3 separate regions of the Homo sapiens genome follow, and all the other regions are linked to region 2. The links come from fine-mapping of genetic effects on gene expression. A gene starts in region 2. Each other region holds a variant in brackets. All regions are shown on one strand. Distances are from middle to middle.

Evidence for each region. PIP is the estimated chance that this variant, and not a neighbour inherited with it, causes the effect.
Region 1: its variant is fine-mapped to the expression of COL9A1 in testis (GTEx, PIP 0.93).
Region 3: its variant is fine-mapped to the expression of COL9A1 in esophagus muscle (GTEx, PIP 0.91).

Annotation. Positions count from the first base shown.
Region 1 is chr6:70,342,216-70,352,894 of GRCh38, reverse strand. LOC105377848 (a long non-coding RNA gene) reads left to right here. Exons shown (of 4, transcript XR_942670.2): 2 at 1,169-1,252; 3 at 1,962-2,006; 4 at 4,626-7,025. Among named protein-coding and RNA genes, the nearest start is that of COL9A1, 44 kb to the right of the region's middle. The variant C/T (reference allele first, on the strand shown) is at 4,777.
Region 2 is chr6:70,298,864-70,309,542 of GRCh38, reverse strand. COL9A1 (collagen type IX alpha 1 chain) reads left to right here and starts at 6,459. Exons shown (of 38, transcript NM_001851.6): 1 at 6,459-6,632; 2 at 7,469-7,542; 3 at 9,157-9,234; 4 at 9,368-9,500. The coding sequence starts at 6,619.
Region 3 is chr6:70,227,760-70,238,438 of GRCh38, reverse strand. COL9A1 (collagen type IX alpha 1 chain) reads left to right here. Exons shown (of 38, transcript NM_001851.6): 34 at 3,499-3,645; 35 at 3,846-3,900; 36 at 5,668-5,856. Among named protein-coding and RNA genes, the nearest start is that of COL9A1, 70 kb to the left of the region's middle. The variant A/C (reference allele first, on the strand shown) is at 5,482.

The DNA of each region.
Region 1 (10,679 bases), 43 kb before region 2:
AGGCAGAGGTTTCAGAGATTTAAGACTCTTGAGCACTGGTTAGTGTGCTATTGGGAAGTCATAAGTCTCACCTGGGGCCACTTGTCATTTGCTTCTCACCCTGTGGCAGGGTCTCTTTTGTCAGTGTCCCCTAGTCACCTCGAGCCTACAGGCCCACCTTGCCTGGTGGCAGTTGCTGCAGATGACTTGAAAGCACAAGAAGGTAATGATAATTTTTTAAAGTTGTTTGTGGAATGAGGTGAGAGGTGACCTTTCCTTATATAGGTACCCCACCACTGAAACCTCAGTCGGTTCTATTAATCATGAGTGTTCTCTGGGAGTGGACTTTTATTTGGGGGGGAATTGAAAGTTGATAAAAGGCTTGGATTTTTTGTTAAAATTGATGCCTAGTGAATTAAAGACACACTTGTAGATGTGGAAATCATCTGAGTCCTAGGATGGGCTTTGGACTTGCACAGATCAGGGCAATTTTAGCTACAACTCAAGGAATAGGGAAACTTCAGTTACCAGCTGGGTTATACATGTTAGCATACTAAGTGTTTAAATGTCACTATCAAAATCTTTACCATCAGACACTGGCGTTAGCTGAAAGTTCAGATCAACAGAAGAATTATCCCTTGCAGATAATTCTGCACAATGTAATCTGTGCCCTTCTGAAAGACAGCTCCAGACACTGTAATCCAATTTGTGAAGATTTGGGAAAACCAGATAGTGATCATCTTCCTGCTGTCTCTAAATATAATTCCAACCCTCATACCATTTCTCTCCTTCTTTCTTTGACTGCCTTACTCTTACTCTAGTCTGTGCTTGAAAATGACCCAAAGTGAAATTACATTCTCTGCCAGAGGTAAGCTATTAATTAGAACTAACTGCTCATTAAAGGGAGCCTGCTGATGGGGCAGCCATGGCAGAGTAACTACACTTCGCCATGTCTTTGATATCACATTGGCAATTTAGTACAAAATATTCCAGAAAATTTACACTTCAAACCCTGAAGGTTTGTTTTCTTTTCATGATCTGCGAGCAGGCATCTGGGAGCAAGGACCTGCTACTTGCTTGCTTTTAGGCAACTACACTAGTGAAAGCAACTTTAAATATAAAGTAGGTTCTGAGTTTTTAATTTCTCGCTGAAATAAAAACGTTTTGCTTCTTCCTCTGACCTACTTAGACTTTACCAAGCAGACGCTGCTGGAAAAACAAGAACTTTCCTTGTCTGCTGTTAAGATGCCAGAAAAATGATGAAAAGAGCACAGTAAGTCCATTTATAAAATAAAATCGTTTTAAGTCACCACCAACAGCAGTCTAATTCAGACTTTCCAGACTTCATAAATTTCTGTAAATTTGCAGAAACATTTTTGTAACATGTTAACAAATTCCCCAAACTCTTAGATTCTACATGTTTTTCATTTGGAACCACATTTAAGATATAAATAGAAAAGGAGTTAATATGTATGTAGGAGTTACTAGTTTATTTGAATTTCACATTAAGAAATCATTTGAAATGTGTAAAATTGTGGCTATAAATATGTTGTTTTTAGAGCTTGGGTATACCATTGATGGGCTCAGCATATCTTGAAATAATTGGAAACAGGATTTCCTGCAGTGATATATTTGTTCTTTTTTTTTTTTTTTTTTTTTTTTGAGATGGAGTCTTGCTCTGTCGCCAGGCTGGAGTGCAGTGGCACCATCTCGGCTCACTGCAACCTCTGCCTCCTGGGTTCAAGCGATTTTCCTGCCTCAGCCTCCCGAGTAGCTGGGATTACAGGCACGTGCCTCCATGCCCAGCTAATTTTTTGTATTTTTTACTAGAGACGGGGTCTCACCATGTTAGCCAGGGTGATCTCGATCTCCTGACCTCGTGATCTGCCCGCCTCGGCCTCCGAAAGTGCTGGGATTACAGGTGTGAGCCACCGCGCCCGGCAGTGATATATTTGTTCTAACTAACTTTCTTGTGCTACCAGGTACCGAAAATAAGAAGAGAGTAAAACCATAATAAGAAAGACAAGGTAAATACATATTCATATAGATTTATTTTTGTTAAGGCTTCAGCTGAGGAAAAGAAAAGTTGGCAGACTGTGTTAATTAAGATGAATCCCACGTGCTCTATAAATCTTGATGGAATCACTCAAGGTTTGCAATTTTTAAAATTTTACTGTTGAACAAATTTGACTTGACTCAAAATTATTTGCTCACCTATAAATCATTATAACTTCAGTATATTTTCCCAGTATTTCCTGCAAGTTACAAAAATTTGTTTCAACATTGTTTTGATAATAATTTAATAATAGCATTTAACAGGTATTGAGTGCTTCCATGTGATGGGCATATACTAAGCAATTTTACACATTAGTTCATTTAATTCTCATAAAAATCCCATACAATAGTATTATTAGTGGGTGAAATTGGTTTTGTGAGGTTAGGTAACTTGAGCATGTGGCTGGTAAATTGTGTAACTGGTATATAATAATAACAATTGCTAAGATTTATTTAACATATAATTTAACACACTGAATCTTGACATCAACCCAACAACAGGAGAAGAATAACAAAGTAGTGAAATGTGAAACCAGAGTTTGAACCTCAGCAGTTTGAGCCCAACTCTGTGAGTATTCAGCTATTAAATAGCATTGTTCGAAATGGTAGCTACTAGCCACATGCTATAATTTAAATTTAAATTAATTAACATTTTAAAGAAATTTAGCTCTTTAGTTGCTAGCTACATTCAAGTGCTCAATACCCATATGTAGCTAGTAGGTACCATATTGAACAGTACAGATTACAGTGCACTTCTATCATCACAGAAAGTTGTATTGAACAGTACTGCTCTCAATATTCTATACTAATGTTTTTCTGGTGAAATTTTAGTGAAATAATGTGAACTCCAGGAAAAAAATTGGGAAACACTTGAATTTTTTGACAATACTTGAACTAATTATCATTTGGGGTGAACTTATTTTACTGATGGCTCATCTCATTATTTTTATTATGTTTACCATAAATTTCAAGAAAGAAACATTTCTGGTCCCTTTCCTTAGTTTGGGGGATTCTCCTTAGTTTATTTATTATTATTATTCTTTTAAGAAGGAGTTTCGCTCTTGTTGCCCAGGCTGGAGTGCAATGGTGCGATCTTGGCTCATCGCAACCTCTGCCTCCTGGGTTCAAGTGATTCTCCTGCCTCAGCCTCCTGAGTAGCTGGAACTACAGGCATGCGCCACCACGCCTGGCTAATTTTTGTATTTTTAGTAGAGACGGGATTTCACCATCTTGGCCAGGCTGGTCTTGAACTCCTGACCTCGTGATCCACCCGCCTCGGCCTCCCAAAGTGTTGGGATTACAGGTATGAGCCACCGCGCCAGGATGATGATGATGATGATTATTATTATTATTATTATTATTGAGACAGTCTCACTCTGTTGCCCAGGCTGGAGTGCAGCGGTGAGATCTCGGCTCACTGCAACCTCTGCCTCCTGGGTTCAAGTAATTCTTCTGCCTCAGCCTGCCGAGTATCTGAGACTAGAGGCACGTGCCACCATGCCCAGCTAATTTTTGTATTTTTAGTAGAGACAGGGTTTCACTATATTGGCCAGGCTGGTCTCGAACTCCTGACCTCATGATCTTTCTGCCTTGGTCTCCCAAAGTGCTGGGATTACAGGCGTGAGCCACTGCGCCTGGCCTGTCTTTAGTTTATTATTTATGTATTTACTATTTTTTTTTTTTAATTGAAATGGAGTCTCACTTTGTCGCCCAGGCTGGAGTGCAGTCACGTGATCTTGGCTCACTGCAACCTCCGCCTCTTGGGTTCAAGCCATTCTCTGGCCTCAGCCTCCCCAGTAGCTGGGATTACAGGCACCCACCACCACACCCTGCTAATTTTTTGTATTTTTAGTAGAGACGGGGTTTCACCATCTTGTTCAGGCTGGTCTCAAACTCCTGACATCAAGTGATCCATCCGCCTAGGCCTCTCAAAGTGCTGGGATTACACGCGTGAGCCACTGCACCTGGCGGGATTCTCCTTATTTTCAATCTGTGACTTCCTTTGCAAGAACTACGTGACTCCTAATAACTTTCCACTTGGGACTACTGAGTGTTTAAAATATTTTCAAGGAGACAAGAGATATAAAAGAGTATTAAAAACCTACTCTAAAAATTAGAAACTTTTTCTGATACATATATTTACAGGCTTTTCTTCTAAGGAGAATAACACTGTTGAAATGAAGCAGTTCCCCCACCTTGCATTATCACTATTGTGTAGTCATTTGAAATATAATCTTCTGCACTTCCTGGGAGGAAGCTCCAAGGGGGCAAGGCAGGCTGCCATCTTGGCTGTCTCACAGCCCTTGCTGCTCTTGCCTTCAGGCTCTGGAAAGTGCTTGGTGATTAGGGACTAGCACGGACTCTAGCACAGTGCAGCCACCACATGGAAAAGTGGCCGGACTGTTTTCCACATGGGTCCCCAATACCGCTTCTCGTCACTGGTCGGGGCCTCCTGACCTGGGACTCCAGCCACCCCCTACCAGGGCTCTAGGGCTGGTACCAGCTTTGCACTCCCCTGGGACAGAGCTCCCAGAAGGAGAAGATGGCTGCCGTTTTTGCTGTCTCACAGCCCTTGCTGCTTTTGCCCTCAGGTGCTGGAGGGTGCACGGTGATTAGGAACTGGCATGGATCCCCAGTGCAGCACAACTGCTTCACAGAAAAGTGTCTGTGTGTCTGGAGTTGGTTCCTTCCCATGGGTTCATTCGTGGTCTCGCTGACTTCAAGAATGGAGCCGTGGACCTT[C/T]GCAGTGAGTGTTATAGCTCTTAAAGATGGCATGGACCCAAAGAGTGAGCAGCAGCAAGATTTATTGTGAAGAGTGAAAGGACAAAGCTTCCACAGCATGGAAGGGGACCTGAGTGGGTGCCGCTGCTGGCTGGGGTGGCCAGCTTGTATTCCCTTATTTGTCCCCGCCCTTGTCCTGCTGATTGGTCCATTTTACAGAGTGCTGATTGGTCTATTTTACAAACCTCTAGCTAGCTACAGAGCGCTGATTGGTGTATTTTACAATCCTAACTACAGAATGCAGATTGGTGCATTTTACAATCCTCTTGTAAGACAGAAAAGTTCTTCAAATCCCCACTTGACCCAGGAAGTCCAGCTGGCTTCACCTCTCATCTGGACTGTTCTTCACTTGGTCCCTGTCCCTGCTTCTCCTCACTGGGCAGGGCCTCCTGACCTGGGACTCCCGCATAACTACTCTGCCCTGCCTGGGCACTTCAGTCAGCAGCAGCTCTGCATTTGTCTAAGGAGGAAATCCTGGAGTCAACCCACAACCCCTCCACCATTGCACCTGTAGTGGTACCACCCTAACCACCCTCAGGCTAAGGAAGGAACAAAGGGCTTAGTTCCTGTGCTAGCACCTCCTGCACTGTGTAGCCCCCATACAGAGTCCTGTCTCTCTTCTCTGTGAACCCCCACCCTCAACTCTTCACCAGGTAGGGCCCCTGGGTCAGGACTGCAGATCAGTCGCCCCAACCACAGCTAAGGATGCCCACTGGGAGTGGCTCTGAGTTTCCCAGAGGAGGGGCTCCCAGAGGGAACCAACACCCCTCTGCCATAGCAATGGTTCTGCCTCTGCTGCCCTCCATCTGGGGAAGAAACAAAGAGCCTGAGGGCTTCACCTGCACTTTCAGCACACCACAGTCACCATCGGAAGAAAAGCCCAGTCTCTCCTCCCTGTGAGCCTTCCACCCCCTCTTCACCAAGTGGAGTGCCCAACTCATGCCAGCAGTGCAGCCAACCCACCCCCTGGCTGAATACTCCCATTGGCAGTGGTTCTGCTTCTCTGAGGTAGAATTCCCAGAGATAACTGAAAGGCCCTTTGCCACTGCCGCTGCTGTGGTACTTCTCTTGCTTCCCTCAGACTAAGGAAGGAGCAGAGACCCTGAGTGCTTCAACCACACCTTTGGTAAGCTGAAGTTGCCCTAAGGAGAAGAGGCCAGTCTGTATCCCTCCAGGACCCACCTGCTCTCCCTGCTCATCACTACCAGGGCCTCCCCTTGCCCTTGGGTCCAAAGTGTGGTGGCCCCATCCTGGGCTGATCACACCGATTGATAGTGGCTCCACATCAGAAAGAGGTGTGAGCCTCTTGTCAAAAGACAAGTGAAAGACACTCTGCCACAGCCACTGCTAAGGTCCCTTCACCTGCTGCCTCCAAGCTTGAGAGGGTACAGAAAGTTTGAACTCACCCCAGAATTGTAATGTGCAGCCCAGGAGTGCCAAGCCGAGATATGCAGCCAGCACTCAAGTGGGAGAGGAGACCACCCATTCACAGCACTGAGAGGGAGCCCAGCTGCAATCCTGAGGAAATACAGAGAAATCATGTGGCTAAGCAAGAGCCTACCTACCAGCCATTACACTTAAGCACCACCTATTGGATGACAGTCCAAAACTTCAACACCAATAACACTTAGCTAATATACCCTCTTGTGAAACCAGTGACAAGAATTCAGCTACAAATAAAGACCCTGCACAAAGACTTGGGCCTCTGAAAACATCCAGAAAAGAAGTCAATTGGCTGTACTCAATATACATTGCAGTTAAAGGAACACCAGTGCACACAGTTGAGAAAGAACCAGTGTAAGAACTCTGGCAACTCAAAAAGCCAGAGTGTCTTCTTTCCTCCAAATGAATGCACTAGTTCTCCAGCAAGCATTCTTAACTAGGCTTGCTGATGGAAATGATGGAAATAGAATTCAGAATATGAATAGGAAGAAAGATCATTGAGATTCAGGAAAAAGTAAAAACCCAATCCAAGAAATGTAAGGATTATAATAAAATGATACAGGAACTGATAGGTGAAATGGCCATTATAAAAAAGAACCAAATTGATCAGATAGAGCTGAAAAACACATGACAAGAATTTCATAATGCAATCACAATTATTAACAGAAGACTAGACCAAGCTGAGAAAAGCATCTCAGTGCTTGAAGACCAGCTCTCTGAAATAACTCAGTCAGACAAAAACAAGAAAAAAGAATAAAAAAGAATGAACAAAACCTTTGAGTAATATGAGATTATGTAAAGAGACCAAACCTGTGACTCATTGGCATCCCTGAAAGAGATGGGGAGAAAGCAAACAACTTGGAAAACATATTTCAGGATATCGTCTAGCTAGGCTATCCCAACCTTGTTAGAGAGGCCAACATTCAAATTCAGGGAATTCAGAAAACTCCTGTGAGCTACTACATGAGAAGACCATCCCCAAGACACATAATCATCAGATTCTCCAAGGTTGAAATGATAGAAAAAATGTTAAAGGCAGCTAGAGAGAAGGGGCAGGTCACCTACCAAAAGAATCTTGTTAAACTAACAGCAGACCTTTCAGCAGAAACCCTACACGCCAGAAGAGATTGGGGGCCTATATTCAGCATTCTTAAATAAAATAATTTTCAATGAAGAATTTGATATCCAACCAAACTAAGCTTCATAAGTGAAGGAGAAGTAAGATTCTTCTCAGACAAGCAAATGCTGAGGGAATTGGTTACCACCAGGCCTACTTTATGAGAGGTCCTAAAAGGAGTACTAAATATGGAAAGAAAAGACCATTACCAGCCACTACAAAAATACACTTAAGTACACAGACCAGTGACATTATAAAGCAACCACACAAACAAGCCTGTGTAGTAACCAGCTAACAGCACAATGACAGGATCAAATCCACATATATCAATAGTGACCTTGAATGTAAATGGGCTAAATGCCTCAATTAAAGGGCACAGAGTGGCAAGCTGGATAAAGAAGCAAGGCCCAATGATATATGGTCTCCAGGAGACCCATTTCACATGCAGACACCTATATGCTGAAAATAAAAGGATGGAGAAAAATATACTAAGCAAATGGAAAACAGAAAAAAGCAGGAGTTGCTATCCTAATTTCAGACAAAACAGACTTTAAACCAACAAAGATAAAGAAAGAAAAGAAGGGCATTACATAATGGTAAAGGGTTCAATTCTGCAAGAAGACCTAACTATCCTAAATATATATGCACCCAATACAGGAGCATACAGACTCATAAAGCAAGTTGTTAGAGACCTATGGAGAGACTTACATTCACAGACTATAATAGTGGTAGACTCCAGTTCCCCTATCACAGTATTAGACAGGTCATAAAGGCAGAAAATTAACAAAGATATTCAGGATGTGAAGTTGGCACTTGATCAAATGACCTGATAGACATCCACAGAACTCTCCACCCAAAAACAATAGACTATACATTCTCACCTGAACATGACACATACTCTAAAATAGACTACGCGATTGGAAATAAAACTATCCTCAGCAAATTAAAATAAAAACCCAAAATCATACCAACCACACACTCAGACCATAGTGCAATAAAAATAGAAATAAATACTAAGAAAATCACTCAAAAGTATACAATTACATGGAAATTGAACAATCTGCTCCTGAATGACTTTTGGATAAACAGTAAAATTAGGTCAGACATCAATAAATTTTTTAAATAAATGAGAACAGAGATACAACGTACCAGAATCTCTCAGACACAGCTAAGGCAGTGTTATGAGGGAAGTTTATAGCACTAAACACTCACATCAAAAAGTTAGAAAGATCTAAAATTAACAACGTAACATTACAACTACAGGAACTACAGAAATAAGAGCAAACCAACCCCAAAGCTAGCAAAAGACAAGAAATAACCAAAATCAGAGCTGAATTGAAGGAAATGTGAAAAACCATACAAAAAAACAATGAATCCAGGAGTTCGTTCTTTGAAAAAACTAATAAGAAAAATAGACTAGTATCCAGAATAATAATGAAAAAAAGAGCGAAGATCCAAATAAAAACAATTAGAAATGACAAAGGGGACGTTATCACTTATCCTGCAGAAATACAAAAACCCTCAGAGACCACTATAAACACCTCTATGCACACAAACTAGAAAATCCAGAAGAATCGACAAATTCCTGGACATAGACAACCTCTGAAGACTGAACCAGGAAGAAATTGAATCCCTGAACAGACCAGTAATGAGTTTCAAAATGGAAGCAGTAATAAAAAGCCTACCAACCAAAAAATGTCCAGGACCAGATGCAGCCAAATTTTACCAGATGTGTAAAGAAGAGCTAGTACTATTCCTACTGAAACTATTCCAAAAAACTCATTCTATGAGATCAGCATCATCCTGATACCAAAACCTGGCAGAGACACAACAAAAAGAGAAAACTTCACGCCAATATTCTTGATGAACATAGATGCAAAAATTCTCAATAAAACACTAGAAAACTGAATCCAACAGTACATCAAAAACCTAACCACCATTATCAAGTAGGCTTTATCCCTGGGATGCAAGGGTGATTAACATATGCAAATCAATAAATGTGACTAATCAGCATAAACAGAACAAAAACCAAAAACCATGATTATCTCAATAGATGCAGAAAAGGCTTTTGATAAAATCCAACATCGCTTTATGTTAAAAACTCTCAATAAACTAGGTGTTGAAGGAACATACTTCAAAATGCTAAGAGCCATCAACAGCAAACCCCCAACCAACATCATATTGAATGGGCAAAAGCTGGAAGCATTCCTTTTGAAAACTGGAACAAGACAAGGATGTTCTCTCTCAGTCCTCTTATTCAACATAGTACTGGAAGTTCTGGCCAGAGCAATTTAGTCAGGAGAAATAAATAAAAGGTATCCAAATAAGAAGAGAGGAAGTCAAGCTATCTCTGTTTACAGACAATATGATTTTATATCTTGAAAAGCCCCTAGTCTCTACCCAAAAGCTCCTTGATCTTAGAAACAACTTCAGCAAAGTTTCAGGATATAAAATCAATGTATAAAAGTCAGTAGCATTCTCATACACCAACAACATCCAAGCCAAGAGCCAAATCAGGAAAGCAATCCCATTTACAATTGCCACAAAAAGAATAAAATACCTAGTAATACAGCTAACCAGGGAGGTGAAAGATCTTCAAGAGGAGAATTACAAACACTGCTTGAAGAAATAAGAAATGACACAAACGAATGAATAAACATTCCATGCTGATGGATAGTGATATGGTTTGGCTGTGTCCCCACCCAAAATCTCATCTTGAATTGTAATCCGAATTGTAACCCCTATGTGTTGGGGGAGGGACCCTCATGGGAGGTGATTAGATCATGGAGGTTGTTCCCTCATGCTGTTCTCATGATAGTGAGTAAGTTCTCATGAGATCTGATCACTTTATAAGGGGTTTTTCCCCACTTCACTCTGCACTTCTCTCTCCTGCTGCCATGGGAAGAAGGAAGTGTTTGCTTCTCCTTCTGCCATGATTTTAAGTTTCCTGAGACCTCCCCAGCCATGCAGAATTGTGAGTTAATTAAACCTCTTTCCTTAATAAATTACCCAGTCACAGGGAGTTCTTTATAGCAGCATGAAAATGGACTAATACAGTAAATTGGTAGCTCAGAGAGTGGGGTGCTGCCGTAAAGATAACCCAAAATGTGGAAGAAACTTTGGAACTGGGTAACAGGCAGAGGTTGGATCAGTTTGGAGGGCTCAAAAGAAGATAGAAAGATGTAGGAAAGTTTGGAACTTCCTAAAGACTTGTTGAATGGTTTTGGCCAAAATGCTGATAGTGATATGGACAATAAAGTTCAGGCTGAGGTGGTCTCAGATGGAGATGAGGAACTTCTTGGAA
Region 2 (10,679 bases):
AATAAGTGTGTTTCATTGAAGGGAGCAAAAGAGGCTTAGGACATGAATCAGCTGCTGTAGACCTAAGACTCACAAGGCAGCAAATGCAGCAACAGCTCCTGGAAGCACGTGTGCTATGGAGGGGAATTGATTTTTCTCCTCCTTGGGGAGATGGAAATGCTCATACTTTAGAGAGAGCAAAAGTAATATGCTGAAAAGCTTAGGAGTGGGGGAATTTTACATTAAATGACCTGTTTTTGTATTAATGTTCTATGGTGAGAACACATTTGTTTGTGAGTGATTTCAGAGAAAAAACGGCCATGGGCTCTATGTGCTTGCTATAGATGATTAGGCTACAATTACAAGTATTGGGCCAAAATAAGAAGATTAAAAATAGAGCTTTGATTATGGTGAAATTTCTTTACAGTAAAACTGAACCCAATGTAAAACTGTGGGAGTCCTAGTTTTAGCAACTCTAATTGTTAATCAGCCTCTCAGCCAGAGATTTCTGTGATAAATTTCAGGCTCTAGCTGTGACTAATTTGCAGCATCCTCACACAACTGGTAGGTGCCATTAGGCATCTTGGGTCTTTTATTTTAAAGTAAAGATAGATGGAATAAAGCTTAAAATTAAATACCATTAGGAAGCTAGTTTTAAAAATACTTCTTCTTTAATTTAACCTATGAACTCATTAAATATGGGGGTTGTGGTATGTTTAATTAAAACTCTCAATTTACAGCTACTTCAAAAGAATGTTTTAAAAAATATATATAGTCATGTTAAAACTAAGGAACTTGCCCTACTATTCTATGAGTTTCATGGGGCATCCCAACTATTGTGCCCATACCAGGAAACAAGGGGAAAGAGATCCTTTGGCACTTCTAGTGTCTACTCTTTTCTAATCGAATGTTTTTTAAGCCATGAGTTGTAACCCATCAGTTGGTCCTGAAATGTACTCACTGATTTGGTTATCATCACTCAAAAATGAAATATAATAAAACAGAAAATAGAATATATTACATTTATTTATTTATTTTTTAACTAAGAAAACATAATTTTAATCATGGTAAACTTTGTTCAATTCCTGTGTCCACTGTGCACATTCTTCAAAACTGTTTTGGTTTTGTTATTAATTTCCTTTGAAATTTTTCTCATGCAAGACTTTCAGAATCTTGTTTACACACATGCACACACACACATAATTAGGATAGCAAAATGTTCATAGATGCTGTAAAGTTGTGTGAATTCTATTTTTAAAATAAAAAAATGTACATATTACTATAAAAATAACTTCTCCCCCTTGTGGCAAAAATTGAAAATACATTCTACTGGAGAACTGTAAGAGAGGCACTTAGGTATTATTCCTTATAAAATATTTTCACATAACTTCATGTGAATCCCCCATGTTATCCTCTAAATGGTACACAGTATTTACAAACAATATGCTTAGAGGTAGCTTCACAGTTTTCTTTACATCCAGCATTGTCCAGACTCTATTTGGATATTTTCTATAGCAAAAAGCTAAAGGTTATTTATTTTTCTAAAAACAGGGACTCACTATGTTGCCCAGAGTGGTCTTGAACTCCTAGGTTCAAGTGTTCTTCCCACCTCAGCCTCCCAAGTAGCTGGGAAGCTGCAGACTTGATAAAAGTGCTACAATAAAAGGCCAGAGTTGAAAGGAACCAGTTACAGTATAAAGATTAAAATGATAGGCAGGCAAAGAGGGATGGCCTCACTTAGAGACACCTGCCAATTTAAGATTACAGGGGCATCAGGAAGGCTTCTCACCTCTCAAAGTTTAATCTCAAAACTCTGGAAGTCCACCATTGGAGACTAATTCCTTTGTTAGTTCTGTCCAATCTTCACTTAGTTTATTAACATAAAGATAACTGGAAGGGATACGACACTTTCCTCATTTAAGATTCCCAATGGTGAAAACAAAGAAAGTCACTCATCGGAGCTATAAATGAAACTTAGCTTTCTTATTCCAGGTTCCTACTTCCTTCCTTAACCTTCCATATTTCCTCCTATTAAGTCACTAGGCACTTATAATTCTACATTTTACTGACCTTTCACTGATTATAAAGTAATTTAATACATTTATATGAGTAACTATTGCTTTCTGAAACTTTTGTTCTGGTTGTGTATCTGTATACGTAGTAATAAAGCCCATTCAATCCATCCTCCAAGCAACACCAGAACTGTCTTTCTAAAGACACATCCAAAAAAGTCATTATTGGCCTCAAACTCTTCTCTCAGTTCCTATAACAGCCAGAATAATGTCTATGCTTTCTTTTGATGTCATTCAAGATCCTTTACCCAACTCCTCCCCCGTGGTCCTCCTACTTGTGATTTCAGAAAGTGACATCACCATCTACTCAGTTGCTCAAGCTCAAAACCAGGTAGTTTTCCTGTCCCCCACCCCTTTTCCAATCTACCCACCAATCTTATCTCTTTATTCTCATCTGGTCTGAGTCAAAATTAACGACTTCAAAGCAGCCTTCCCTAACCCCTCAACCTAGACCAGCTTCTAAACCTTCTACAGACTCTATGACACATTGTCTTCTTTTATATTTTTCATAATGTTTCCACCTGAAATTATTTTGTCTATTCTTGTAAATGTGTTTAGTACCTCTCTTCCCACCAGTGTGTAAGCTGCATAGGGGCAGGGACCTGATCTTTCTCTGGTTGTCTCTCTGGTGTTAAGGTCACTCAGGGAGCATGGTAGAAGAGGCATCAATAGATATTTACCAAATGAAAGGATTCTTTGCTTCCCAAATGTCCTCTTTTACCTTTTTGTTATAGTATCTTCTGTTTTCTCTGTCTAAAACATACTGCACCCACTTATTCTCTTAGTAGCCTTAGTATCCTTCACGATTTCATCTCTTGTATTAAAAATTTCCCGATGCCCTTGGATTATGCTAATACTTGTTCTCAGTGACACTACAGCCTTCTTATTCTCTGAATTGTGGTCGCTTTCATATTGGTCCTCCATGCTGGATTGTCAGCTTCCTCAGGGCAAGGCTGTGTTTATTCACACTTTTTGCTTCCTCACCTCCCAGCACATACTTGATACATATACTACTGTATATAGTTACTCAATACATGATTGAATAAACAAAGGGAAGAAAGCAGATGATCAAGAAAGATGATTATTTGTGATGATGTTCCCCGATTTAAGCTTTAAGTAAATAATATTCTTGATTTATAAGAAGAAGGAGATTAGTGTGTGTGCATTCTGTGAAAAAGTATGTGGGGGAGGGATGAGAGGAGGTACAAAGAAAAGTATAACTGTTCTATACAAAACACTTCTATTTATAAAATGGATCATTTTAAATATTAAGCTGTCTTAGTTCATTTATAATCTGATATGATTGACCACATTTCATTTCTACATGGTTTTTCAGAACCAAACTGTTAGGTAAGGTGAGGAAATAATGCTAAGGGTGAAAAAGCTTATGCGTCTATGACCTTAGGGTGCAACTGACCCAGACCAGAATAGTGTGGCATTTGCACTGCTGTCTGTGAGATTCTAATGTCGCGTTAGGAAACAAGATTAATAGAAAATGGGAGTGGAGGGAGGAAAAAAAATTTCCTTAAATAATATTGTATATATCTTTGTTCTCTCTGGATCGACTTTCTTTTTTGTTTTTTGTTTTTTCTTTTCTTTTTTTTTTGACATAGGGCCTCACTGTCTTGCCTAGGCTGGAGTGCAGTAGTGCAATCACTGCTCACTACAGCCTCAAGCTCCTTAGGCCCAAGAGATCCTCCTGCCTCAGCCTCCTGAGTAGCTGGGACTGGAGGTGTGCATCACTGTGCCCGGCTAATTTTTGTATTTTTTGTAGAGATGGGGTTTCACCATGATGCCCAGGCTTGTCTCCAATTCCTGAGTGCAAGTCATCCGCCTGCCTTTGTCCTCCCAAAGTGCTGGGACTACAGGCATGAGCCACCCTGCCTGGCCTGGATTTACTTTCTTTCTTTTTATTAGTATTATTATTTTTGAGATGGAGTCTCACTCTGTCACCCAGGCTGGAGTGCGGTGGTGTGATCTCGGCTCACTGCAACTTCCGCCTCCTGGGTTCAAACGATTCTCCTGCCTCAGCCTCCCGAGTAGCTGGGACTACAGGCGCGTGCCACCAGGCCTGGCTAATTTTTGTATTTTAGTAGAGATGGGGTTTCACCATGTTGGCCAGGCTGGTCTCGAACTCCTGACCTCAGGTGATCTACCCACCTTGGCCTCCCAAAGTGCTGGGATTACAGGCGTGAGCCACTGTGCCCAGCCTACTTTCTTTCTTAAAATAGCTCTTGCTTGCTCCTACCATCTTAAATAAAACTGCCAAGCTAGAAAAAAGCCACACCACCTATAAGCAAACCTATTTTTCTCTCTATCCTTTCATTTTTAATTAAAAGGCACCCTCACTTGATTTCAAATTCTACTTGAAGAGGATTCATTACAGTGGGAAGGAGAGGGGCAAATGCGGAATTGAGATCTCTAAAGCAATGAAAGGATTTCCCAAACACTTCATTATAATGAAAAATCCCTCTCTCCTTTCTTACCAGAGTAAGTAATATGAGAGGATCAATCATGCAAATAAATAGCTTCAATGGACAGTCCCTTTGGAAAATGCCTTTTCCCCTGTGAATCTCTGGCTGGCTTACCTCCTGTGACTTCAGGATGTCAGGAAGGTCCCCAGCTGCAGTTTCTCCTCTGAGGTTAATAGACCGCTTCTTTCTCATGAGCCCTGACTGACTTAAACAAATAAGCTAAGATCTGGTCATTTGTAGTTCTGTCACAGAGCCAGGATGGCTGCACTAGGGAATGGGAATTTTGATAGACAGAAGGCAAATGACAGGGACTTGTAGAAAGCCCCAAACAGCATGAGGAAATGGGTGTCCCTCTGGGAAAGAGAGACAGGACTCCAACAGGTGGGCTATGAGTAGAAAATAAAAGGGCAAAAGCATGGATATTAAGTTTGCCTGATTTACATTTCATCAGTGAGCTGGGGGAGGCAGAAACTGAAAGGACTTTTTTGGAAAAGAAATAAACAAATGAAAAATAAGAAGCAACGCTATTGTTTTGTAATTAAATAAAAATTAAATCAATTAGAAAACGAAATTTAAAAATTTCAAGAAGCCAGGTGCAGTGGTGCATGACTATCATCCCAGTTACTCAGGAGGCTGAGGTGGGAGAATCCCCTGAGCCCAGAAGTTCAAGGCTGTAGTGAGCTATGATTATGCCACTGTACTCCAGCTTGGGGGACAGAGCGAGACCTGAGACCCTGTCTCTTAAAAAAAAAAAGTTCACCTAAAAATTACTTTGCTTGTACTGTGATTTTTGAGATCATTGGATCTTCTGACCTTTAGAGTCTTGGTTTTTGGAGTAACCACCCGTGTCCCTCAAGACAAGGCCAGAGGTTGGCCATGCTGAGTGGGTGGTAACGGGGGTGATGTGGGGGCTATAGGGAATTCTCTTTAGGTGCTCAGGTTCTGGAGAGACGGCATGGCATGTGTGGTAGCGATGCTGATAACATGCCTCTCTCTAGGTTTGTGCTCCTTGTAATTTGCTCTCACCTTGTTAACGGAGGATAATATGTTGCTTCTTTCCAGATACAGTGTCCTCTGCTCAACTCTGGTAGTCTCAGAGTTTAAGAATAAACAACAAGTAGGGGGCTTGATGTTACATTTTATCAGGATTTCTATCCATGAGGTAGAGAGAGGGAATGTGTATTTAGTAATAGGCATGGCACTTTGAAAAAGTTACTTCATTTTCTGCTTCCTCAACTTTCTTATTTGGAGAATAAGGGTAACTTCAGTCTTACCTTATAATGTTGTTGTGAGAATTAAATGGCATTAAGCTTTGAGCATTTTCAACAGACGGAGGTGCATAATGAAGCGTTAGCTATGAAGACGATGACAAATAATGATTGTTGGGTGTTAGACCCTCTGCCTTTGATACCTCATTTAATTCTCAAAACCATTGTTTTAATGTAAGCATTTTCAATCTGTTTTACAGTTAGGGCATCTAGTTACAGAAAGGTGAAGTAACTCTCTCAAGGACACACAGCTAGTAAGCTTCAGAATAAACAGGGATTGAAACTTAGGTTGATCGGGCACCAAGGCTCCCACGAGTTTCCACACCTCTGCCTCCCAGTGGGCACATTTTTACTGGAACCTCAGCCCTCTGAAAGCTTCCACTGTATTCCTATAGCAGTTCTGAAAGCTGCCATTGTACTCCTATAGCAGATCTAAAAGCATCTACTGTGTTCCTATAGCACCTTGCCTGGATCTTTCTGGTGAATTTCCCCACATCCTGATTTTATTTTTTTCTTTTCAGCAAACTTTCCCCTGTAAATCCCTCCTTCAGTATAACCTTGTTAGCTTTGAGGACACACCCCTAGGCCTGGGCTCAGAGCGCTGCTTCTCCCCACCCCTTTCCTTTGCTTCAGTTTAAAGTGTCACGAGATGCCTCTGGTTCTCTCCCTTTGCTTTTAGCCCTCACCGGGGGCAGGAGGGACCAAGGCTGGGCCCAGAACACATAGTCCTAGGGTAACAGTGAAGGGGTCGTGAGGGGACAGTGACTCCCTTCCAACCCCTTCTTCATAGGGACTGTTGGCAAACAAAGAAAATCAACTGGGAAAATGAAGACCTGCTGGTAAGACAATAACCCTGGAAAGAGTGGTGGGGAGATGGAGCTGGGGGTCCTCAGAACCAAGGGTCTGTATTTTTGCAGCAGTGGTAAGATGAGAGTAGGTGAGCCTCAAGGTGAGAGACAGAAAGAGAGACGGATGAGAGAGTAAGACAAGAGGGCAAGCGTGAGAAACCGAAGACAGACACAAAAAACCGAAGACAGACAGAGGAAGGGAGAGAAAGTGACGGCCACAGAAAAAGAGAGGAAGGAAATCAAAGGTGAAAGAAACCAGAGACAAAGAAATAGGTACCAAAACAGTGAGATAGGTAGATACCGAGAAGGTGAGATCAATAAAACAACAACGACAGTGGGGTCTGGAAACATGAGTTCCTTACATCTCTCAGTAGGGTTTCAAAGTAAAAATGAAGGCTGGGTGCGGTGGCTTATGCTTGTAATCCCAGCACTTTGGGAGGCCGAGGCGGGCGAATCACGAGGTCAGGAGTTCAAGACCAGACTGACCACCATGGTGAAACCCTGTCTCCACTAAAAATAGAAAAAGTAACTGGGTGTGGTGGCACGTGCCTGTAATCCCAGTTACTCAGGAGGCTGAGGCAGGAGAATCGTTTGAACCCAGGAGGTGGAGGTTGCAAAGAGCCGAGATCGCGCCATTGCACTCCAGCCTGGGTGACAGAGCGAGACTCCGTCTCAAAAAAAAAAAAAAAAAAAAAAAGAAATGAAAAAAAAACTATACTGTGATTTGATCACCTTACATTAATTAGGTTTACTAGGTTTGAAAATATGGAAGTGTTTTCCATCTGCGGGGACTCCTGTTTCAGTCATTTTTCTTCTCTCTTCTTCAGGAAAATTCCAGTTTTCTTCTTTGTGTGCAGTTTCCTGGAACCCTGGGCATCTGCAGCTGTCAAGCGTCGCCCCAGTAAGGGCCATAGTTTCTAGACTTTCAAAGATCACTTATTCCCAGAAATGATCAGGCAGGGCTGTGGCTGACTGAAGACTGAGTGAGGCATTCATAGTCCTTCACACCCTCACTCTTCAATCCAGCTTTGGGGCACAGGGATACATTAGGTTCTGGTTTTCCATGGTCAATGCTGGGTATGGAAAGTAAGTCCTGTCAGTAATCACAGTTGGTAGGAAGGCCAATCTGTGAGCTGCAGTGCCTAGTGCAGTGCCTAGTACAGATGGTGATTGGTAAATGTTGGGTGAATACATGGATGAATGAATAAATAGACTGATGGATGGATGGACCTCAACAATTTGGGGTGAGGAGAGTATAAAGAGCATGTTTGATGTACCATTATGGTTAGGCCCATGCTTTTTTATATTTATATTTTTATTTTTTTGAGATGAAGTCTCACTCTGTCACCTAGGCTGGAATGCAATGACACAATCTCGGCTCACTGCAACCTCCGCCTCCCAGGTTCAAGTGATTCTTCTGCCTCAGCCTCCGAAGTAGCTGGGACTACAGGCATGTGCCAGCATGCCTGGCTAATTTTTTATATTTTTAGTAGAGACGGGCTTTCACCATGTTGGTCAGGCTGGTCTTGAACACCTGACCTCAGGTGATCTACCTGCCTCAGCCTCCCAAAGTGCTGGGATTACAGGCGTGAGCCACAGCGCCGGGCCTATGCTTTGTAACTGAATAATACTTTTTTTGAAGTCTAGAGAGTCTCTGTTGTCAGATGAATCTTAGCAAGGCACTGAGGTTGGATATTTCCAAGAAGCCTTCTGTGGTGGTGAAAAATCTCTCTTCCCTTTGACCTTCCATTTGTGTAAGGAGAACACAATTCCATTCTATGATTTCTTATCAAATTGAGGATTTAATCCTTCTCATGATTATTTTCTTCTTCTTTTTACTCTTCCCAGTTCTAAGATGTTAGGATTAATCTAGTCGGGACTTTTATTTGATCTCTTAGAACGAATTTATGAAATCAAATCCATCCTCTATATTTTATTTAGGATTAGTGAATCTCAAGACTTCCCCAGGCCCCTATATCTGACAAAGATTCCTAAGAACTCTACTCTCCAGAAGCCCCACTGAACTGGACCAAGGTTGGCTCTGGAATCTCACTGGAATCCTAAAATTTGTGGTGTTTAAGGAACATTTTCTAGCCCAAACCACCAGGAATTTTCCAAACAGATTTCTGACCCTGTGCCATTCAGGACACCATTCAGCTTTGGTTTCAAAAGGAACAAATGCCTAACCTCTTCAAAACGAACATTTTCCCAGCCAGATTATTAGAGCAACTTTGTGCCTTGCATCCACCCCTTCCAGGATGAGTTGCAGGTGGACAGATTATAATCGTAGAGGCATGGAGGTAAAGCCAAACACTTTACCTCTAAGCAAGCTGGTATAATATTGAATTTTAAATATTTATTATTATTGATACATCCTGAAATCTTTTTTTTGTGGTCAATTGCTATTTTCTGGTTCTAAATTTTATTATTATTATTATTATTTTATTTTATTTTATTATTATTATACTTTAAGTTAGAGTGGATGAAGTAGAATGACATGCTATCTCTTTTGCAGGATTCCCTGTCAATTCCAATTCTAATGGTGGAAATGAACTCTGTCCAAAGATCAGGATTGGCCAAGATGACTTACCAGGTGAGTAGCAATGTACCCTATTGAAAATGCATGCTTTCTATAAACCTGATTTTTTTTTTTATTTGGGAAAGTTGTGGAAAGAAATAAAACCAATCTCATTTTAGACTTTTCATTTTGTATTCCCATTCTATAGGGTTTGATCTGATCTCTCAGTTCCAGGTAGATAAAGCAGCATCTAGAAGAGCTATCCAGAGAGTAGTGGGATCAGCTACATTGCAGGTGGCTTACAAGTTGGGAAATAATGTAGACTTCAGGATTCCAACTAGGTAATCTATCAAAAATATTTTAATCTAATTATCTGACTCAAATGCATTAAAAATGGATAGCTATCCAATGTTAGAGTTTTCTTATGATCAATGTTTCTTGGATTATAATTGTATTTAAAGATGAAGAAATTTATTTACCTGCCTATCTTCAGTACCTTAATACTGCATTTCATGTTTTCAGTATGTAATTTACTTTCCATTCCAGGAAAAAGCATCACTGAGACTATTATACATTGATTCAGGACATGTTCTTATTACCTTGCTTTCTGTTTTTCTATAATTTGTCTGGTTTTGACTGAAAGGACCCTCTGTGAAAAGTGCCAGAGGGTAAGCATAAATTTAACTAGGAGCCACAGAGTGGTTAGAAGACTCACAATGGTGCTGTTCAAGTGTCCTGGTGCTGAAATGGAGCCACACGTCCACTGCTTGGCTTCTGGCAGACATCAAACCAAAGCAAAACTAAAATAATTATAATAGAAACAATGATAGTAATACTAACGACATCAAATCCTCCACTTCACTGATTTCTTTCTCTGGAACTAAGCCTTTTGCTCTTTATTTAAAACTGAGGTACTTTAGTGTGTAAGTGTTGAGTCCTGTCATCATTATGAATGAATCTCAGCAATTTAGTTTTGATATCACCTAAATACCTTATTTATGATTATGATAATTATTATATGCTTTAGCACACTATAAAAAAACTAGAATTAAAATTCCTTTAGTAGATAAATGAGACAATTAGGACTTCAATAGAAATTAAGTTATAAAGATAAATAATGATTAATTAGAACAATAAGATAATATAGAAACTCAATGTATATAAAAATAAAAATTTTGAACAAATTAGAAGAATCTGATATAATAGTACCAGATTACAGCTAGAAATTCATATTTTGAACCTACTATATATTATTGTATAATACAACAATAGTACATTATATGAGCTCTTTCTATAAATTTACTAATTAACATTAATTTCATTCTCATCACAACCCTGTGATATAGGGTCATTATTAACCTTTTTTTTCTTAAATCAGGGATCCCCAAAAGTTTAATTTACTTGCATAAGGTGAGTGGGTTGGAATGTGCTGGAAGGACTGAATCCCAGGCAGAATGGTTGCAAAGGTTTTACTTCTAACCACTACTCCATACTGACTCTGGAAAACCATTCACATCTGG
Region 3 (10,679 bases), 71 kb after region 2:
TTTTTATAGAAACTAAACTGGTGTCCTTAGAGATTAGATGTATTCAGAATTATAGAATCACTTAGTAGGAAACCTGAGATGACTTGCTAATTGGAAAGGAATTCACATCTAAAACAATTAGGAATTTAAGAAAGGTTGAGGAGAAAAGATGAAGCTCAGACCTCAATCTCAAATGCCACTACTGCCAGCTTCCATAAGTTTCCAAGTCCTTCCTGTTTCCGGAATCTCCTCAACCCTTCTCTGTCCCTGTCCAGCATATTATCCTCATGGCAGCCAATGTCATCTAGATTTTTTAAAAAAATAAAACCCACTGTGTATCCCTCCTCTGTTTAAAACTCTTTAAGAATAAAATCAGATTCTTAGCGAGGTAAACAAAGCCTTTGATGAAGTGTTCTTTGCTCCACGAACCTCATCTCCTACATACCTAGAACTTCATCCATTTGCAGTTTCTTTTACATGCTGTTTAACACCTTGTTCTGGTCTCCTCTTCCTCTTTCCTTGGAATAGCTACTTCCTACTTAAGCATTTCGATCTATCCTCAGCTTCACTTTCTCCAGGAGGACCCAGTCAGACTTGGTTACAATGCCTAGCCTTGGGCTCTTTGCAAACCGCAGAGATGAATATTATTACATCGTATTAACTTACCTGCCTCTAAACACTATGTCTCAAGTTTCAAGTAACATTTTTATGCCTAAGAATTTTTAACAGAAATGGTTGAGGATTGAGAAAAATTTAGAGTAAACCTTGATTGAGTTTGGTAATAGAAATCCTACTTCACTATCTAGAAATAGTAATGTTCAATAGAAAGAATTCAAGCTGTAACAAAAGAAAAGTTAATGAACCATGCAGTGACAAGAATAAGTTAATTGCATTCAAATTTGCATATAGTATTAGGAATTAGCTCTTGATTCATCTCCTTCCCCACAAGTGTCTTACCTGACACTGCCCAGGTAATATGAGTGAAATTGAAGTCTACTGTCCCACAATCAGGGGAAATTGTTACTAACACAAAGACTTACACTTTCTTCATTGATTTCAGCATAGACAAAGTTGTGAAGTAGGCGATGTCTGTAACCTGATTTCTGTTTCAGTATACCACTCCTCAGTTGAGGAATTTTTTCCCAGAGACCCAGGGTCCTGGCCATATTGGCCCTTAATCTCTTCATTAGGAAGTTCCCAGCTCTTACTGTAGCAGTATTTCAGTCATTATCAGCAGGATTATACACTCTGTCGTGGTCTCCTTTGTTTTCTGTCAGTTCTTCAGTATATTTCTGAGTTCATTTTGTCTTCTCTTCTGGGTTCTTTTAGAAGTTGTTGGCAGGGCAAGGTGGCTCATGCCTGTAATCCCAGCACTTTGGGAGGCCGAGGTGGGCAGATCATCCAAGGTCAGGAGTTTGAGACCAGCCTGACCAACATGGAGAAACCTCATCTTTACTAAAAATACAAAAAGTTAGCCAGGTGTCATGGCGCACGCCTGTAATCCTAGCTACTCTGGAGGCTGAGGCAGGAGAATCGCTTGAACCTGGGAGGTGGAGGTTGTGGTGAGCCGAGATCACGCCATTGCACTCCAGCCTGGGCAACAAGAGCAAAACTCCATCTCAAAAAAAAAAAAAAAGAAGTTGTTACAGTTTTGCACCCTAGGCACCTGACAATGTTGCAGCCTTCTATGTAGGATACCTTTTCCTTGTCCTGCTGACAGTCTTTCAGGAAGTCTTTAAACCATAATTTCTTCATAGAAGCAATTTTGGCAAGTTGACTTAGATGAATATCAATTTCTTTTGCATAAAGCGAAATTGGAAAAGCACATTTGCTGAGCTTTATTTGGATGTATCTAGTAAAAGCATTGCTTCATCGCCTTCTTCAGTTTAAAGTATTTGTTTGAAAGAGCCAGCTTTTTCTAGATAAATGATGCATATGAAAAAGAAGCAGGATTAAATTGCTTTATAAACATTCATATCTTGAACACTAGCATTCCCTTGCTGCCTCGTGTTCTTTTATCTTCTCATTCTTATTCTGAACAGCAGCAGTACATTGGAGCTATTCTGCCACAAATTTTACCAGAGGAATTTAACAAATTTTTAGTTTAACAAAAAGTGAATTAATTTGGTCTCTTTTTAAAACATTTATCTTAGATGATTCTTTTAAATGCTTTTAGTGGTCTGCTTTCAGCTAAAAAAAAATCTAACTTGTATTTGCTTTTATGCTAAGGAAACACATGGTTTACTTTTAACTTCTTCAATATTTAGATTTTTTAACTTCCTTCATACTTAAGTAAGTTGTAACTTTCTTTGGTCAAGTTTTTTTTTTTTTTTTTTTTTTTTTTTTTGAGATGGAGTCTCGCTCTGTCACCCAGGCTGGAGTGCAGTGGTGCGATCTCGGCTGGCTGCAAACTCTGCCTCCTGGGTTCATGGCTTTCTCCTGCCTCAGCCTCCTGAGTAGCTGGGACTACAGGCATCCACCACTACGCCGGCTAATTTTTGGTATTTTTAGTAGAGAAGGGGTTTCACCGTGTTAGCCAGGATGGTCTCGATCTCCTGACCTCGTGATCCGCCCACCTGGGCCTCCCAAAGTGCTGGGATTACAGGCGTGAGCCACCGCACCTGGCCTGGTCAAGTATTTTAAATGCAGCATTTTAAATGTGGTATTTTAAGTGCATTGATTTAGTTTAGTAATTCCTGGATATACCTGGCATCTTCACATTCTCTAAAAAAAAAAGTTGTAAGGGCTAAATAACTTATGTTCTTGGAAATATCTTTATTTTATGCTTGCTGCATTTGTGATATGCAAAGTAACATATTTTGTAGGAATGCAGGGGCTTTTATGTAGCCAGAAAATGTTAACAAGCTTATTGAAAACTAAGTTCCTCTTAGAGAGTGGCTTAAAGTATGAAGAATGTAGTTTTTAAAAAATGTAGTATTCCAATAAACGTTTTGCAAGAATAACTATCCCCGAAAGAAAGATTATTATTATTATTATTATAATTTTTGAGACGGAGTCTTACTATGTTGCCCAGGCTGGAGTACAGTGGCACGATCTCCGCTTACTGCAACCTCCACCTCCTGGGTTCAAGCGATTCTCCTGCCTCAGCTTCCCAAGTAGGTGGGACAACAGGCATGCACCACCATGCCTGGCTAATTTTTGTATTTTTAGTAGAGACAGGGTTTCACCATATTGGCCAGCCTGGTCTCAAACTCTTGACCTCATGATCCACCCACATGGGCCTCCTACAAGCGCTGGGATTATAGGTGTAAGCCACCACACCCAGCCAAAAGAAAGATATATTGAAAGTTAACTTGAACTAGATTTCTAAAAGATGGGTAAGTTGTGTAGCATTATGTGTCTTCACCTTGCAGTGAAGGTTTTGTAACCTCTGAAAGAACACCTGTTAGGATGCAGAGTGCAGGAAACCGCAAATTTCATATAAGTGTTTATATGAGTATGAAGCAGGCACATTCTTTATGCTTAGCCCTGGTTTGATAGTGTGCAATTGTGTTCCAGGCAGGTAATCCTGGGGAACCTGGCTTGAGAGGGCCTGAGGGAAGTCGGGGGCTTCCTGGAGTGGAAGGACCAAGAGGACCACCTGGACCCCGGGGTGTGCAGGGAGAACAGGGTGCCACCGGCCTGCCTGGTGTCCAGGGCCCTCCGGTGAGTGGTGGGCAGCTTCTGTGGTTTCCCTTTGGAGACTCCATCCCACAGCAGCAGGGCTGTTCTAGGCATCAGCTTCTCAACAAGTTCTCTTGTAAATCCAGCCACCTGGCTCCTTGCAGAGTCTGTCAGTTTACAACTTAACAATGTTCTCTTTATGGTTTCATGCATAAACTGCCTTTTTTTCTTTTCTGTCCCAGGGTAGAGCACCGACAGATCAGCACATTAAGCAGGTTTGCATGAGAGTCATACAAGGTAAATAAATCACAATGGTTTGACTTTTTCCACCATCAACTCTTGTTTCTTAAGATTTTATTCTTGTAGATACACAAGGGTAAACAAGAGTGACTTTTTGTGTGCCTTAAAGATAGGACATTTAGGGTAATATTAATGCCAATTCTGTTTTTCCAACTATTGGCATCCACAATAGTATACAGCCCGTAGCCTCAATGTAAAATATTACTTTTCTGGTTATCCTGCCTTTTTTTTGTTTTGTTTTGTTTTTTTGCCATGGGGGCTAATTTATAACAAAGTGCACACACACACACACACACACACTTTTTTCCTTTGGAACACAAATTCTTAGTTGTCTCTCCCCTCCTTAAGACCCTACCACTTAGTGTGTACCTAGCACTGACCTAGGCTTTCTCTACATTTTGTGAGAAGTAAATGACAGACTCCATGCCCATAGGAAGCATAAGGACATTATCGCCATTCATGTACACATATGTAAAAACAATCAATAACCAGCATTTACCAAAATTATGACACATTTTCATACTTGTTAACCCTTATCAAAATTTACCTGTAGCTATGGCAATTGTTATTTGTTTCAGAATTGGTCTAGTTATAAAAACACACAGAAAATGAAGATGTGCAAAAGCACCCTATAGCTGAGGAGTTCTGTAACACTGAAGCCCATAGCTAGTTACAGTATTCTGGTGTAGCTAACTTTGTCATGAAGAGATACTCTTTTGTATGTTCACTAGACAGTCTAGTTTGTCTAGGAGACTTGAGAAGTTTTCCAGAACCAAATAGGAATGAAACATTCACTTCTATATTTGAAAAGCAATATAGGCCTCTTCATTGCAGACATTTTGTCCTGAAAGTCTATTTTAGTTTTAAACATATCTAAAAAATTATTATTCCATGCAAACTCTTACTTATATAAGCAAATTTAAAATACTCACATTTAAACAATTTAAAAATGTTGGGTAGAAATTTGTTTCCATTTCATATTCTCCTTTACCCTCTAAGTTTAAAAAATATTACATGAGAATATTTCCCTTAGAATGTTTTCATGGGGAGATTTTGTTGTAGGCCATGCCTTTAGTGGGTGATTCTGAATCTATTTAATGGTTCCTGAAAAAGCCCACACAGTTATTAATTTTTAAGACTAACTCTGACCATTCCCAAGAAACAAGTTATTTTTAATGTTTGTTGTCTATTTCAAGCGTGGAAAAAACTTCTGAGAAGGAGGGTTTATAAGAAGCTGTGACTCCTGGGGATATTTCAGTTTATATAATATCTTCAAACTAAGAATGTGAGGCGAGGTCTCAAATGGTGTCTGAATATTAATTCTGGACAATGTTCTTGGCTTTTAAAAACTGTCTGGACATCTGCTTCCACATATGTTAAGAAACTCATTTTTCTTCCCATCCTGGGTTTTCAGATACCCAGCAGGGATTCAGGTGACATCCTTCCAGAACATCGTTCACCCCAAAGCCTGTAGTTTAAGATTTTTGTGAATCCCACCCCCTGCTACCTCCCTCCCCGTGCCCTGACTCTGTCTCAGAACAACAGGACCAAATATATCCAGGGAGAGCTGCATCAAAC[A/C]GCACCAGCGAAGCTTTCTGGCAGAAAGCCCACAGAGAAATTATCCAACTTTATTCATTTCTTACTACCAATTTTGAAGATCTGGTGACACATTTAGAAAAAAAGGCATTTGGAATACCTCTCTTTTCATTAGAATAACTTTTATGTTTCTGACACTTCTGGGTTGTTTTGTTTATTCTCTTTTAGAACATTTTGCTGAGATGGCTGCCAGTCTTAAGCGTCCAGACTCAGGTGCCACTGGGCTTCCTGGAAGGCCTGGCCCTCCTGGTCCCCCCGGCCCTCCTGGAGAGAATGGTTTCCCAGGCCAGATGGGAATTCGTGGCCTTCCGGGCATTAAGGGGCCCCCTGGTGCTCTTGGTTTGAGGGGACCTAAAGGTAAGTCATCTTGCCCATGTGGAACCAAAGAACACAACCTTTTTCAGATGTATAATCTGTATCAAGCTCGAGGAATTTATGTTTTACCAATTTCTGAATATCCAGTGAGATAAGATGTATTATTCTCTTTTCAATAGTGACGGTGAAGATTCAAAAACTGTTATATAATATTCCCTTGACCCTGCTCTACCACAACAGTAGACCAAATACTAGAATTAAAGTCCCGTGTCTTTTAGGACTGATCTTTTTCTATTATACTCTACCTCAATCATGGTTCAAAACAAAGATAATGGGATCTGGTAAACGATCATTCAGCTATTTTTTATTTATTTATTTATTTTTTGAGACCCTAAAGTCATTGTTGAGTTCCTCTAACATGGCAACCATCCTTAGGATATTTGTATTTGTTATTTAAACTAATAAAATTTGTTAACAGGATGTAAGAAAAATATGCATTAGAGCTGCCTCCCTCTTTTAAAACATGACATTGGATATTTAGTTTTGATGGATTTTTTTTTCAGCTCTGAAGTACAATCTAATTCCTTCTTTAGTATGTAAGATAGCTTGTTTCTTCCACTTTTATTTAAAGCAAGTTAAGCCCTTGCATCCAGGATTTTGCAGAAAAATGGGGCTATGAGTGTGTTAGGTACTCAGCAGGACTGGTGGAAGAACTGGCTGTCTCATTTGGAGTTTGCTAGTTGAGGGGAGTAAGTATATCAGCTTGGGGTGTATGTGCCCTGGATAATTTACAGAGAGGACTAAATAAAGTGAGTAGTTTCTATGTCATGATGAGTGACTGACAGCTTTCTGGAGAACTTCAGAAAGACGTGGCATCAGAAACAAGAGAGGGTTGTTTTTTTTTTTTTTAAGTACTGCGGTGCTCCAATTAGGGATAAATACTGTGGTATGAATGGTCAGATGGCAAGCAAGCTGCCTTTTTGGATCTATAAATGAACTGCTGATGCAGTTGGCTAACTAGACCTTCAGCTGGAACAATTTATTTAATTACATTTTTTTTTGGCGTGTTCAGAGCTTCATGTTAAAAAAATGGGGTCTAACTGAGACCTCTTATAAGGCTGGCATGAATTCAAAGCTTTGGGAGGCTAGACAAAATCAAATAGAGTACAGACTGAGGGTAGAGTTTTTCTTAAAGAGAACTGAACATTTTCTTTGAAAGAGTCACATACCTATTCATCTTTGTCCAGCTTTACTAGTTCAGGAGCTCATGCCTTAGGTGCTCTCTCTATGGTTAGTCTCAATTCACTCTGTAAATAATTTCTAAGAAACTCTACAGCCTTAGGTAGATTGTTGACTTCATTGGATCTGTTGTGCAAAAGCGGGTGGATCATGACGACCTGGCCTTTTCTGAGTTCACTTTAGGGAGTGGTTCTGAGAGAGCAGTCCCCGGAGCAGCGGAGTCACCAGGGACCTTGTTAGGAATGCAAATTCGCTGGTCCACACTGAGTCCACTGAATCAGAAACTCTGGGGTCGAGGTCTAGCTGTCTAGTTTAACAGGCCCTCCTGGTGGTTCTGCTGCACCTGGTGTGGAGCAATCGCCCATTTTCCTACTGAAAGGGAATGACTTATAGGGCCTATAGACATCACAGCCCTATTTTCTTTGGTTAACAGGAAGTCTCCTTGGGGCAGAGCTTAACTTTGTTTGAGCTAGTAACAGAACTCTTCTTTAAAAAATGAAAGCTAAGCTAGGACAGTCTAAAGCTGCCTTTGTCAGCCTTGCCTGCACACTGGAATTGCCTGAGGAGCTTAAAACCACTGATATCTGGATCCCATTCTCAGAGATTCTGATTTTATTGGCTTGGGCATTGGGATTTTAAAATATTCTCCAGGTGATTTTAATGTGCAGCCAGGGTTGAGAACCACTGGAAACAATGGTGAATAGTTTGGGGAAGCTTTAGCAACAGTGAATTGTGGCTAGGCTGGGTTGGGTTGGCTCTAGCAGATGAACCTCAGTTTGAAAGAAACAAAAGTAAATTTCTATATTTGGAACCTGGGAAATGGCTCTAGCACTAAGTTCGTTTGTCAAGTATAGCTTGATCATGTGAGGTATTTCCTCTTAATTTTTCTTCAGTATTCATGACATAATCTATAACATGAAGTGATACAATTCTTTTCCCTTTTCCAAAGGATTTTTTTTCTCCCTACCCTCCTCCATCCCTTTCTCGTTATCAGATTCCTTTAAAGCTGTATCTTCTCTTAGTTTAACTTCTGAGAATTTGGGGTGGAGGTAGGGAGCGGTAATTAAATTTTTAAAATCAATTAACACTGTCATACTTTTGGAAATGTATGATTTTAGGTAGCTGGATTTGATTCTTCTTGTCCCACCACATACATTAACAGGAGTATTTATTAGAAAACATATAGCTTTGTAATATCCAAGGGGTTACAGCTGAAATTTCCCTGAGCATAAACATTCCACCAATTTGAAACTTAAATTTTCAGTCAATTAGAGGAGAGATATATTTCAGTATTGCTTGCTGGCTTTTTTCCCCATCCCTGGTAAAGAAGGGATGGTATGAATCTTGCTCTACCATATGGTCACTTTGAGAGCCTTTTTCCAGAGAAACTGCTGCATAAATAACAAACAAGTTTTATTATGAATGCTTGAACAGTTCAGCCTATGTCTTAGTCACTGTTTTTCTCCTAGAAAATACTCTGAAGAACACAGTAGAACATTTTCAATAGGAACTAGTAGAAATATGCCTCAAATCATAGTCAAAGCTTAGGTTATATCTATAATTTTTCTGTTTTTCACTGACATGCTTTACACAATATTATACAAAATGTTAGGGCCCAGGCTTAAAACCTGAGAGATATCTAACTGGCCTTATATTCACTTTGCTTGGTATTACATTGGTCTTTTGTGTCATAAATATTAGTTTTAAATATTCACAGTTTGGATTAATTTTAAGTCCCTTTGAGTAAGGCTGTATATTTTTAGATATTTTAGTGTGAATCAAACAGACACTGCAATATGTAAATGAAGGTTTGAGAAAACACACATGTCATAATTATGACTAACACCTTTCTCAGTGATAATCTGTTTACATGGAGATAGAGCATCAATTATAGCTCATGAATAAATGAAATAAATAGCAACTATAGAGCAATGAGAATTTCCACTCGTTCATAATGAGCTGTTTTTCTGCTGAAGCTGTGTATTTTTCTTTATACCTTACCTAAAGCTTATTTTACAAGCTCTTTATGCATATTTTTTGACTGAGGAGGCTAACAAAGCTGGACCTTTAGTTCCCTAAGCTGGTTTTTGTACATCTCAAAATAAGACATGATCAGGGTTTGAAGTAATAGATTAACCTTGTCGATAGAACCAACCTGTATACATGGTTTGCTGTGGAGTAGCAGTTTGCAGAATAGGCTCTGTTTTGGAGCTCATCTTAAAACTTGTTTTTCTCTGACTGATAACCAAAAGACAGTATCACAACAAAGACACTGGTCTTAGTCCTCGAAGCAACATTAAAAGTTGGTGTGGCTTCATGCTAGAATGTACAAACAAGTTTAGCTTTTACTATCAGTGTAAAAGCCACACTTTAATTTATAATCTTCATCTCATATCTTCAGAAATGTGGCACATTTAGACAGTCTGTTCTCATTGCCAGCCTCCAGAATTATAGTGATATGACACTTAAATTACCAAGTTAACAAGAATGCTTATGCCATTAGTTTATAAGATGTTAATTGTCGTATCTTCCTAATATAGTAAGGCCATATTGATGATGAATGTTAAAAAAACTAGCTTATGTAAATATGAGTTCAACCTGAGTTCAATCCGTCATAGTATTTATATAAATTTAAATTGTTTTGAAATGTGATGAAATGTAGTTTATCATAAAAACATTCACATGAAGACATTCACAACTAAAATCAAAGTATGGTGACTAAATATTCACTTCAGAATTAGAGATCTTTGACTATCTGAGTGCAGATGGTTATACAGATATTTTTTCTGTTTTTGTTGTGTACATGACTTTGTTTTTAAAATTATAACAAATATGACTTAATATTGAATGAGGCTAAGCTGAAACAAATGTTTGGAAAAAAAATGGTATGTATAGAATTTATTGCAAGGTGCCATTGCATTTTCTAACAGCATAGTAGAATAATGATATACTACTGTACTACCGGAATAATGGGATAATGCCTTCAACAAAGAGCAGCAGACATCATTTAGGACCAGTTAACTAAGGAATTAATGCCTTTTGTTAATGAGGTCAAGTTGCTGGGTTTGGTATCTTCAGGGGCTGGGATAATTAATGCAACTTTGTTCTGTGGCTGCTAAATCCCCAATTTCAATCAACTGTCTTGTAAATGTCTTGCAAATCCACATGGTTGGTTGCAATCCAAAGTATGTTCCCTATAAACAATGAGTCAGTAGTGAAATGTAGACACTGTAACAACACACTTTATGTTTTTAAGATTGATTAATTTATATTTCATAATACTAAATTTATACAGTTCCAAAAATTAACAATGTATAAAAAAGATATTTAGTGAAGTTTCTCTCCTATCCCTGTCTCCCATCTGCCTAATTTCCTTTCTCCTTCCCACTAGGTAATCAATACTATTCTTTTCTTACATATCCTTACAAGCAATTCTATATAAGGATACATGAATATGTATTTTTTCTACATCCTTTTAAAAATGAATCATATTGTCCTTTAGCAAGTGTTCTGGAACTTGCCTTTTTCACTGAGCAGTATGCCATGGAGACCATTCCAAAGAGCTTCCTGGCTATTCTTCACAGCTGCATAGTGTTCTATTCTGTGGAAATTCTGTAATGTCTTTA